2 separate regions of the Homo sapiens genome follow, and region 1 is linked to region 2. The links come from fine-mapping of genetic effects on plasma protein levels. A gene starts in region 2. The other region holds a variant in brackets. All regions are shown on one strand. Distances are from middle to middle. Region 1 holds the start of CCL8 (C-C motif chemokine ligand 8). Region 2 holds the start of CCL7 (C-C motif chemokine ligand 7).

Evidence for each region. PIP is the chance, under the fine-mapping model, that this variant and not a neighbour inherited with it causes the effect. Protein levels are from the aptamer-based SomaScan assay of Sun 2018.
Region 1: its variant is fine-mapped to the plasma level of the CCL7 protein (Sun 2018, PIP 0.95).

What each region holds. Positions count from the first base shown.
Region 1 is chr17:34,317,798-34,323,139 of GRCh38, forward strand. CCL8 (C-C motif chemokine ligand 8) reads left to right here and starts at 1,638. Exons shown (of 3, transcript NM_005623.3): 1 at 1,638-1,780; 2 at 2,472-2,589; 3 at 3,005-3,605. The coding sequence starts at 1,705. The coding sequence ends at 3,110. The variant A/T (reference allele first, on the strand shown) is at 2,541.
Region 2 is chr17:34,268,213-34,273,554 of GRCh38, forward strand. It overlaps CCL7 (C-C motif chemokine ligand 7), which reads left to right and starts at 2,009. Exons shown (of 3, transcript NM_006273.4): 1 at 2,009-2,154; 2 at 2,934-3,051; 3 at 3,485-4,030. The coding sequence starts at 2,079. The coding sequence ends at 3,590.

The sequences.
Region 1 (5,342 bases), 50 kb after region 2:
TGGATGTGATAGACTGATTTTAATGTTTATATGGAAAGGTTAAAGATCTAGAATAGCTAACACAGTACTGAAAAAGAATAGTCAGAGGACTAACATTACCCAACTTCAAGATTTACTATTAGGAAACAGTAATCAAGACGGTGTGGTATTGGTGAAAGAATAGACAAATGGATCAATGGAACAGAATAGAGAGCCCTCAACAGATGAATGGATACATAAAATGTACTATATACATACAAGGGAATATTACTCAGCCTTAAGGATATGTAGCATATCATATGCTGCCACATAGATGAACCCTGAGATCCTTACGCTAAATGACATAAGCCAGTCACAAAAGAAAAATACTATATGATTTCACTCACATGAGGTAGTTAGAGCAGTCAAAATCAGAAACAGTAAGTAGAAATGGTGGTTGCCAGGGGCTTGGGGGAGGGGAAACTGGAGATCAATAGGTATAGAATTTCTGTTTACAGATGAAAAGAGTTATTGAGACTGTTGCACAACAGTGTGAATGTTCTTAATGCCACTAAACTATGCACTTAAAAATGGTTAAGATGGTATGTGCATTTTTACCACAATAAAAATAATAAATGAATAAAGAACAAAGGAAGTAATTAGCTATCAAACCACAACAAGGCACGGAGAAACCTTAAATGCATATTGCTTAGTGAAAGAAGCCAGTCTGAAAAGGCTGCCTACTATATGATTCCAACTATGCATATGATACTTGGGAAAAGACAAGCTCACAGAGATAGTAAAAAGATCAGTGGTAGCCAGAGATTTGTGGAGAGGAAAAAGGATGAATAGAAGAATACAGTGAATTCTTAGAGCAGGAAAACTTCTATATGATATTGTAATGATGGATAGATCAGGCCTGCAGGGGGAGTAGATGAGGTCAGTCTTTTGCAAACCTGGTTCCTTCTTGCCACGCCCCGCCCACAGCCCCACTGTGTGTGAACCAAGAGAGTTGGAAGGCCTTCTGCAGACGGACCCATTCCACCTGAATCTCCATGACATATTGGACTTCTCCATATAATTTCATTTGGAAAGAAACTTGAGCATCTAAATAAAATGTTTGGAAACCACCATGCTACAAGACCAGCATGTGCTGTCTAGTTCTTACCCTCTGCAACAGTAAGATTCTGGGGCATTAAGACTTAGTTCCAGGATTCTGTCATTCTGCCAACGTTCTGTGGCTGGGGTTCTAAAGGAGCTTGCCTGGCTTAGAACTGCAAGTGACTCTAGTGTGATGGAGAGCACCAGCAAAGCCTTAGGGCCCATCCCTGGCCTCCTGTTACCCACAGAGGGGTAGGCCCTTGGCTCTCTTCCACTATGACGTCAGCTTCCATTCTTCCTTTCTTATAGACAATTTTCCATTTCAAGGAAATCAGAGCCCTTAATAGTTCAGTGAGGTCACTTTGCTGAGCACAATCCCATACCCTTCAGCCTCTGCTCCACAGAGCCTAAGCAAAAGATAGAAACTCACAACTTCCTTGTTTTGTTATCTGGAAATTATCCCAGGATCTGGTGCTTACTCAGCATATTCAAGGAAGGTCTTACTTCATTCTTCCTTGATTGTGACCATGCCCAGGCTCTCTGCTCCCTATAAAAGGCAGGCAGAGCCACCGAGGAGCAGAGAGGTTGAGAACAACCCAGAAACCTTCACCTCTCATGCTGAAGCTCACACCCTTGCCCTCCAAGATGAAGGTTTCTGCAGCGCTTCTGTGCCTGCTGCTCATGGCAGCCACTTTCAGCCCTCAGGGACTTGCTCAGCCAGGTAAGACCTCTCCCTTTTTAAGGGGAGACCAAAAGAGGAATTAAGAAGAGCCATTATGTCACAGCTCATTAGGAACAAAACCAGAACTAAAGGCTCAGGTCACTGAGGCTGGTTCCCTTGATCTTTCCTGACCCCAGTTTTGGGAGGAGACAGTGGAGCCGCTACAGCAACAACCCTCCCATTGTTTGGGGAAATAATCCAGAACGAAGAACTGTTTCTCACTGTGGGTGTAAAGGACATTTCAGGCCGTAGTGGAGAGGGAGAAACTATTGCCTGAAGCTTCAAATTTTGGTTATGGTTCAGTGTACCTTCCAGAACAGTGGCTGTGTAAAGAGGATGAGGACCCAGAGGAATCTCAGCGTATGGCATAGGCTAACTCTAAAGCCCATGAGGATGAAAGACTGGGAAGCAAGGTATTGGAACTTATGTTCCCAGTGTCAGAAGTTTTGGGTTAGTAGACAAGGACTAGCTTGTTACTCAAAATGTTTCCAAACCCAGTCAACAATGACGGGCCGCAGAGTTCAATAGAGGAAAGAGACTCACAGGCAACATTTTATCTCTGGGATCTGGACTAAGACACTGAACTTGGGATGGTGACTTCTTGGTCTTCTCCTTCCTTCTCTTCTTTTCCTTACAAATGCACACTTACGGTGGGTCCTAAATGTCTCATTCTTTGCAAAATTTCTTTCAGATTCAGTTTCCATTCCAATCACCTGCTGCTTTAACGTGATCAATAGGAAAATTCCTATCCAGAGGCTGG[A/T]GAGCTACACAAGAATCACCAACATCCAATGTCCCAAGGAAGCTGTGATGTGAGTGGACAGTGCCTGGCACCCCCATTCAAAAGTTCTGATGGACAACATAGAGAAGTCAAGATTCATGTCCATATGAGTCGGATGCATATAACTTCTATCCAAAGGGCCCCTCTACCCCATAGAGAAACTCAGTCCATGAGAAGGAGTCCATAACTGCTCTAGGATTCCCTTCTAGGGGCTTGGTGAAACTAACCCAATATCTGTAGCCAGGACCCTGGAGGGTTTCACCTGGACAGCAAGAGCAGAGCTTCCTTCTGGAGCTTCTTCCTCCCACTCTTCCCCTCCCTCCTCTCCCGGGTCCGGGTCCTTCACCTAAGGACCAAGGGCTGATCAGTTCTAGGGACCAATGGCCCACAGTCCTGTGCAGGATCTTCAAAGTCTTCCATCTAATTGTGCCCTCTCTCCCCCACAGCTTCAAGACCAAACGGGGCAAGGAGGTCTGTGCTGACCCCAAGGAGAGATGGGTCAGGGATTCCATGAAGCATCTGGACCAAATATTTCAAAATCTGAAGCCATGAGCCTTCATACATGGACTGAGAGTCAGAGCTTGAAGAAAAGCTTATTTATTTTCCCCAACCTCCCCCAGGTGCAGTGTGACATTATTTTATTATAACATCCACAAAGAGATTATTTTTAAATAATTTAAAGCATAATATTTCTTAAAAAGTATTTAATTATATTTAAGTTGTTGATGTTTTAACTCTATCTGTCATACATCCTAGTGAATGTAAAATGCAAAATCCTGGTGATGTGTTTTTTGTTTTTGTTTTCCTGTGAGCTCAACTAAGTTCACGGCAAAATGTCATTGTTCTCCCTCCTACCTGTCTGTAGTGTTGTGGGGTCCTCCCATGGATCATCAAGGTGAAACACTTTGGTATTCTTTGGCAATCAGTGCTCCTGTAAGTCAAATGTGTGCTTTGTACTGCTGTTGTTGAAATTGATGTTACTGTATATAACTATGGAATTTTGAAAAAAAATTTCAAAAAGAAAAAAATATATATAATTTAAAACTACTTAGTCTTATTCTTCTTGGGGTAACATTTAGCTGGGAGTGAGTTTTGGGCATCATGGGTGACAGTTTGGGCATGGACGGGCCATTTTTCAAGAATGTCTTCTGGCTACGCTGGACTCAACCAAGGTTCTCAGAGAACTTGGTGGGACCAGGCCAGGATGTTCCAGCTCTCTGACTCTAGTCCCTAACTTCAGCAGCCCTGATTCGCTAGCCTCTCTTGTTTCTCTTGTTTATATATTATCCAGCCTAAGGTATTTTGTTATAGCTGCCCAAAAAGACTAAGATAATCTCCATCACTCTACCCCCAACCCCAATCCCAAGAACTTGCAAGCATCCATTTAAAGGCGTGGAACCTCTTCTTTTTGACAGCCTTTTAAGGTCAAGATTCCCCTGTACTTAGTGAGCTTAGCTGAATCTTCTTACAAACATGTGACCCGCCATATTGAGCCATACATACCAGAGCTTATTATTTTTCCAGCTTATTGGGAAAACACGTCTAAGGCAAACAAATTTATTGTACTGTTGAACCAACTCTGCAGGGCCTACTGTTAATGTTCATGTAAAGGTGCCACAATTCCAGTATATTTGGAAGTATAGAGAGGAAAGAGATTTGGGTTCTGCTCCTAAGAGTAACCTTAACTCTCTTGGTCACTTAGGGTGACATAATTTTTCCCTTCAGCATTAAGATGCCCCATCCAAAAATCAGGATCATACTGTGTCACAGGCAGGAAGTGAGAGGATCTAGCAGATGACTACACAAGTCCCTCCAGCTCTAGAGCCATGTCTCTTAGAAACAAGGTCATGTTTGTTGTCTGGGGTAGAGTGGGGACATAAAGTTCCTGGGATTAAAGCCATAAAGGCAGCCAGGGCCTAGCTTATTGGAAAAACACATCTAAGTCAGATACCCCTTATTTGGAGACAAGCTTTCCATTAAAGTTCAAAGTAGTACACCCACAGTTCCAAGAGCAATAAAGCAGCTAAGTGTCAGATGGACTAGAGGGGCACCTCCCAGGCAGGGTCCACAAAAAAGCTCCATCAAACTCTAAGCTCTTTCTTCAATAGCTTCAAGGTCAATTGGGCACAGATATGTGGGTCCTGGGCTTCATGAAATCCTGGACCACAAATCCCAAATTCTAAAGGCAAGAACACTCACACAAAACTGACACCAGGCCACAGCAAAAAGACACAAATTTGTTCTTCTCAAATTTTACCCAGCTTCACTTTGGGATTATGTCATTATATTTCAAATGACAATGAGCATAATACACCTTAAGTAACATGTCATCTTATTTAAGTGGTTGATGTTTTATGTGCCCTGACTTGAATATATGTGTTTTAAAAATCCACATCCTTCCATAAACTGGTTCAGATCTGTAAGCCCTGCTTTGCTGTCTTGTAAACTGGGGGAAAGACCTGGAAAGGTCACTCAAAGCTGACATACAACCTCAGGCTCACCTCAGTTTCACCCTCAGCTAAGGCTGACCATTTGTGGCAGTCCATGACTCACTTGATTCACTCAATATCTGCTTTCTGCCTCTTCTCACTTCTCACTTGCTGCCCCCAGGCTTCTCCTGGGTGTCATCTTGGGTCAGGAGTTGACTCCACTGCACACTTGTCCAAGTTTCAGAAGTGTGGAAGAGTGAACATTTTGGGTGGTAACCGTCCACAGTGAAGGGTGAAGGCAGATGTTCAAATGCTTCTGCCATCCCTTTTACCAGTTCTGCTCTGATCTTGGTTA
Region 2 (5,342 bases):
TAATTTTGCCATATTTTCTACAACCAGCTTATATTGTTTTTAAATTATTTAAAAGTTTTTACAACATTCTGCAACAATTCAGCAGCCTTTTATTTTTACCATTCCCAGGTCTTGTAGGTGACAGGTACAGGTCTTTCCATCATAAATATAAGCAGGCATTTTCTCTGGGATCTTAGGCAGGGACATCTTGGGGTACTTCACTTAAGGATTTTCTGAAGGAAAAAGGTTTAACCAACTGGAACCCATGAGTACTTCCTTGAGCTCCTGACCTGTCTGGGCAGGACCCCCGTGTTCTACTCCAACTTCATCGATCATTCAGCAGGTTATCCATGATAGTTGTCTTCCAAAATAAAAGAAAAAAGAAAAAGAAAGAAAAGTCAAAGGAAAGGATTCTGCTTTTTAGAAGCATCAGGTGGATGGAACGTACACCCTGGGTTAGAAAATATGCTGTTCTAATGTGTTACATTAGAGTGAGCTGGGAAGACTCCATAAATAAGGAGATAGAAAGTAGGCCAACTCTTCACCAATTTCTGGAGCTGGGAGTAAAAACAATTTGAAAAAGAGATAATCGAGAGAATGAGTAGCCTGAGCAAAGTCATAGGGGTAAGATAAAACGACATAAAGCTAAAACCAGAATCAAAGCCTTGCATTGCTCCCAAATTAATATTCAAAGTTGTATAATGCTCAATTCCCCCATTGAATAATTTTCCTTTTTTGCATTCCATGTCCATGATCCATGGCCCAGTTATAGGCATGAGGACCCCACCCATGGTCTCTCATCAAACCCCTTTTCACTGATATGGAAGGCGATTAGTTGGTGATTTTGTAATGTGTATGTGAGATGAGGAGCTAGTTGTATGTGAGATGAGGAGCTAGATTAGTGGTTTCCAAAATTTATTCTTTGTATTTCTGAGATATGTGTGTGGGAAGAATGACAAGAAGTCTCTTGTCTCTGATTCAAACTGAAGGTCTCTGATTTTGTCGATAAATTTGCCTTCCCTATATTCTTTTACTTGGAAAAATATTTTCACAGCTCATTAGATGTTTTAGAAACACAGTATTTTAAGATCTTGATATGCTGTGCAGTTCCGATAGCCTATAAAACAAATAGTGGTTTTAAAACATATCCTCAAATTATTTTACACTCTTCCCATTAAGAGGTATGACTATGTTCCCTAACCTTGCACCTGGGATCCTTAAGCCATCATGCAAAATATCTAGCCATGTGGAGGGACCACTGGAAAGATCACACACACACACACACACACACACACACACACACACATACAGAGAGAGAGAGAGACACCTGAGAAATTCCATCTGGTCCAACTGCTGGCTGTTGAAGTCCTCCCAGCCCAGACCCCAGACACTGAATGAAGGCCTTGTGATATAGTCAAGAGCAAAAAAACCCAGAAGATTGTTATTGTTTTAAGTCACTGTTTTCAGATAGATTGCTATGCAGCAATAGATTATTGAAATAGACACTACAATTTTAGGTACTATTATTCTAAGAATATTGAATTTTATTTTTCTGCTAATGTTCTATTATTTTACTTTTCTCTGGGTTTTAGAAAGCCACCAGGATTTAAGACAGTGAAGAATCTTTGAGTCCTTTGTAGAGTTGAACCAAAGTTTGAATGTCTCTTTGTGGACTCGTGTCCTAGGGATACCACTCCAAAGGGAAAAGGGGAATATCCCTTACATATCTTTGACTTTGGTATCCCTGATTCCTTCCTTTTTCTATAGAATGTGTCTCATTTCAGAGAAACTGGTCTCTTGATAATAGCCATAGATTACATACTGTGGTCTTCCTCTACATAGACCCTACCTCACCTACCACTCCTGGTCTTAGCTGAAAAACAGGCTAGCCTCGACTCATACTGTCATTTCCTATCCTCCCACTGAAGTGCACTGGCTCAGCAGATTTATTACTCCATAGATTTATTACTCCATTCTATGATTCATCCTCTCTGCTTCCTATAAAAGGCAGAGACAGAGCTTCCAGAGGAGCAGAGGGGCTGAGACCAAACCAGAAACCTCCAATTCTCATGTGGAAGCCCATGCCCTCACCCTCCAACATGAAAGCCTCTGCAGCACTTCTGTGTCTGCTGCTCACAGCAGCTGCTTTCAGCCCCCAGGGGCTTGCTCAGCCAGGTAAGGTCCCTCTCTCCTTCTCCTTGAAGCACATTGCCCCCTCTCTGGGTTATCCTGGACCAATCAAGAAGACCTGATACCCACAGTCTCACTTTAACAGCTACTTTTCCAAGATAAGGTAACTTAGAAAAAGGATAAGGGGTGAGCCCAACCACACAGCTGCTGTTGGGTAGAGCCTGAACTAGAATTCCAGCTGTGAACCCCAAATCCAGCTCCTTCTAGGATTCCAGCTCTGGGAACACCCTCAGTGCAGTTACCACTCCAGCTGCTTCCAGCAGAATTTGGGATCAGGGTGATCAAAGACAGGAGGCTTCTGGGGATGGGTGTGCGGGCTGTTTCCAGATACCGGGAGACCCAGAATCTGGTCTGTGGAAGCCCAGCTTCCAGAAACAGCAGCTCTGCAGAGGTGGTACGTATCAGGGAAACTCATGACCAAGCATTGAATGCTCAGAGCCTAAAAGGGGATCCATAGTTGGGGTACCCTTGCTCTAAGGAATTGGATTATTATATTAGCCCCTCCTAGCAATGCCCAGAGTAGCCATCAATTCCTCTTCCGTCTTTCAACTGGTGATGGTGCATCCCTATTTCACAGTCCATAAAAGTGAAAGGGAGTTTATGAAATGCCTCAAAGGGCAGAGACATTGGGTTTGGGATGGGCAGCTTTTCCCTCCACCTCTTCCTTTCTTTCTGATTCCTTCTTCTTACCATTCCCTGTTTTACAAACAGAAAGACCCAGGACACACCCTCAATGGACTTTTCTTCTTGTTGTTTCATTGCAGTTGGGATTAATACTTCAACTACCTGCTGCTACAGATTTATCAATAAGAAAATCCCTAAGCAGAGGCTGGAGAGCTACAGAAGGACCACCAGTAGCCACTGTCCCCGGGAAGCTGTAATGTATGTGGACGATGACCACCCACCCCTCACACCTCAGTCCTAGGTTCTTCCCTGGGCAGGGAATAGGACTAGTATCAGAATGAGTTGGAGTCAAATACTGTGATGCATACAGCATCTCTAACCTTATCCCAGACATTTGCCAGTGAGAAACAATACAAGTAAAGAAAGTGGCTTCTCACTCTCAGCTCCCTTTCCAGCTATCATTTTACATCTCAGTTCGTTCCTTCATCCTGGAACCAAGAGAGATTCACTTGGGCTACCAAAAAGAGCTGCTTCTCTGAGTCCCCTTCCTTTGTTTTATCTTCTTCCTTCATCCCTGAGGCATCCCCATCAGCTAGGCTGATGGGCTAGACAGATTTCCCATAGACTTGGTCACACTCCCAGGCTGAACCCTCAAGGTGTTCCATCTGACTGTCTCCTTTCTGCTCCACAGCTTCAAGACCAAACTGGACAAGGAGATCTGTGCTGACCCCACACAGAAGTGGGTCCAGGACTTTATGAAGCACCTGGACAAGAAAACCCAAACTCCAAAGCTTTGAACATTCATGACTGAACTGAAAACAAGCCATGACTTGAGAAACAAATAATTTGTATACCCTGTCCTTTCTCAGAGTGGTTCTGAGATTATTTTAATCTAATTCTAAGGAATATGAGCTTTATGTAATAATGTGAATCATGGTTTTTCTTAGTAGATTTTAAAAGTTATTAATATTTTAATTTAATCTTCCATGGATTTTGGTGGGTTTTGAACATAAAGCCTTGGATGTATATGTCATCTCAGTGCTGTAAAAACTGTGGGATGCTCCTCCCTTCTCTACCTCATGGGGGTATTGTATAAGTCCTTGCAAGAATCAGTGCAAAGATTTGCTTTAATTGTTAAGATATGATGTCCCTATGGAAGCATATTGTTATTATATAATTACATATTTGCATATGTATGACTCCCAAATTTTCACATAAAATAGATTTTTGTATAACAGCTGCCATTCATGGTTTTTTAAAAGGATAAAGTAATAAAGCTGGTGGGGGTAACAGGGTGACAAGGTGAAGGGCGTGGTTGCAGAGGTTGGGCTCACATTGTGGAGAAATGAGCGCGTAATGGACTCTGGGCTTTCCCCCAGGCCAGGCTCACCTGCATGTTAGGGAGAGGCAGCCACAGGCTGGGGCCAGATGAACCCACCCCCCAGCTCCAGATCTGACATCTGCTTCAGCCACTTGTTCAAATACCTTTCTTTTTTCCCAAACTCATTCTTTTTCTCACCATCCCACGCTCTACCCAAAAGCCTGTCCCCTCTTCTATTCTATCAGCCTTGTGACTGGCTGGTTTTCCCCCTTCTAATCAATCCTCTAGTCTAGTAAATACAAATGTCACTTTCATTAAAAAATCAAGTAGGAGACCAACAGATGATTTGGCAAGTGCCTGCCATCATTGATTTCTGCCACCATTGGTGTTCAGACCAAGTCCAACATCCCTTTCTACCCCTTCTTCAGCCCACCAGTTCTCACCCCCAAACACCAAAGTCAACCTTAAACAATGAGATTCAGAAAATGTGAATAAGTATTCAGTTCATTCAAGGACAAAGCTTGAGGGTGGCCACTTGGAAAAGCATCAACTCCAAACAACCGGAAAAGTTTCAGTTACATAAGTAAAGACAGAAGTTCCAGCCAGATTACAACATTTTTCATACTAGACAAGGTGCATACACCACAGTGATTTGATTGGTTATAGGTTGCTATGTTCTAAGGAAGATTATTTGCTATTCCTTAAGGAGAGGTAATGATCTGAGGGGTCTTACCTCTGCCATGGCTCAGTCTTCTTAATTGTTTACAGGAAACAGCAAAAATGCAGAAGTTGTAGGTGCATGCCACACAACTCAGATTGCATAGCCACATTCCTCTCAAGGCTCAGAATAATTAAAGTCCTAATAGCTTTAAGTTTAAATTATTTGAAGTTTGACTTATTTAATTTAATTTCACACCAATAAGGAGGGTAATCTTAAATTCCAGGAGAGAACAACCAGCAGGCAGACCAGGAGTAGAGGTGAATGAATAGATACTGTGAGACACAGTATTTGATACATGCAAATATTAAGCAGAGTGTTTGATGGTAGGACAGGAAAGGAGAGAAGGGCTACATGTGCTCAAGGTCAAACAGAATCTGCTGAAACTTCATTTTCAAAAAATTATAAAATCATGTGTTTTCATGCAGGCCTTGTACTCTTGGGCACAGAGAATTAGAAAGAACAGGAACAGAGAGGCTGGTATATAACTGGGCATTGAGTTCAATGGGA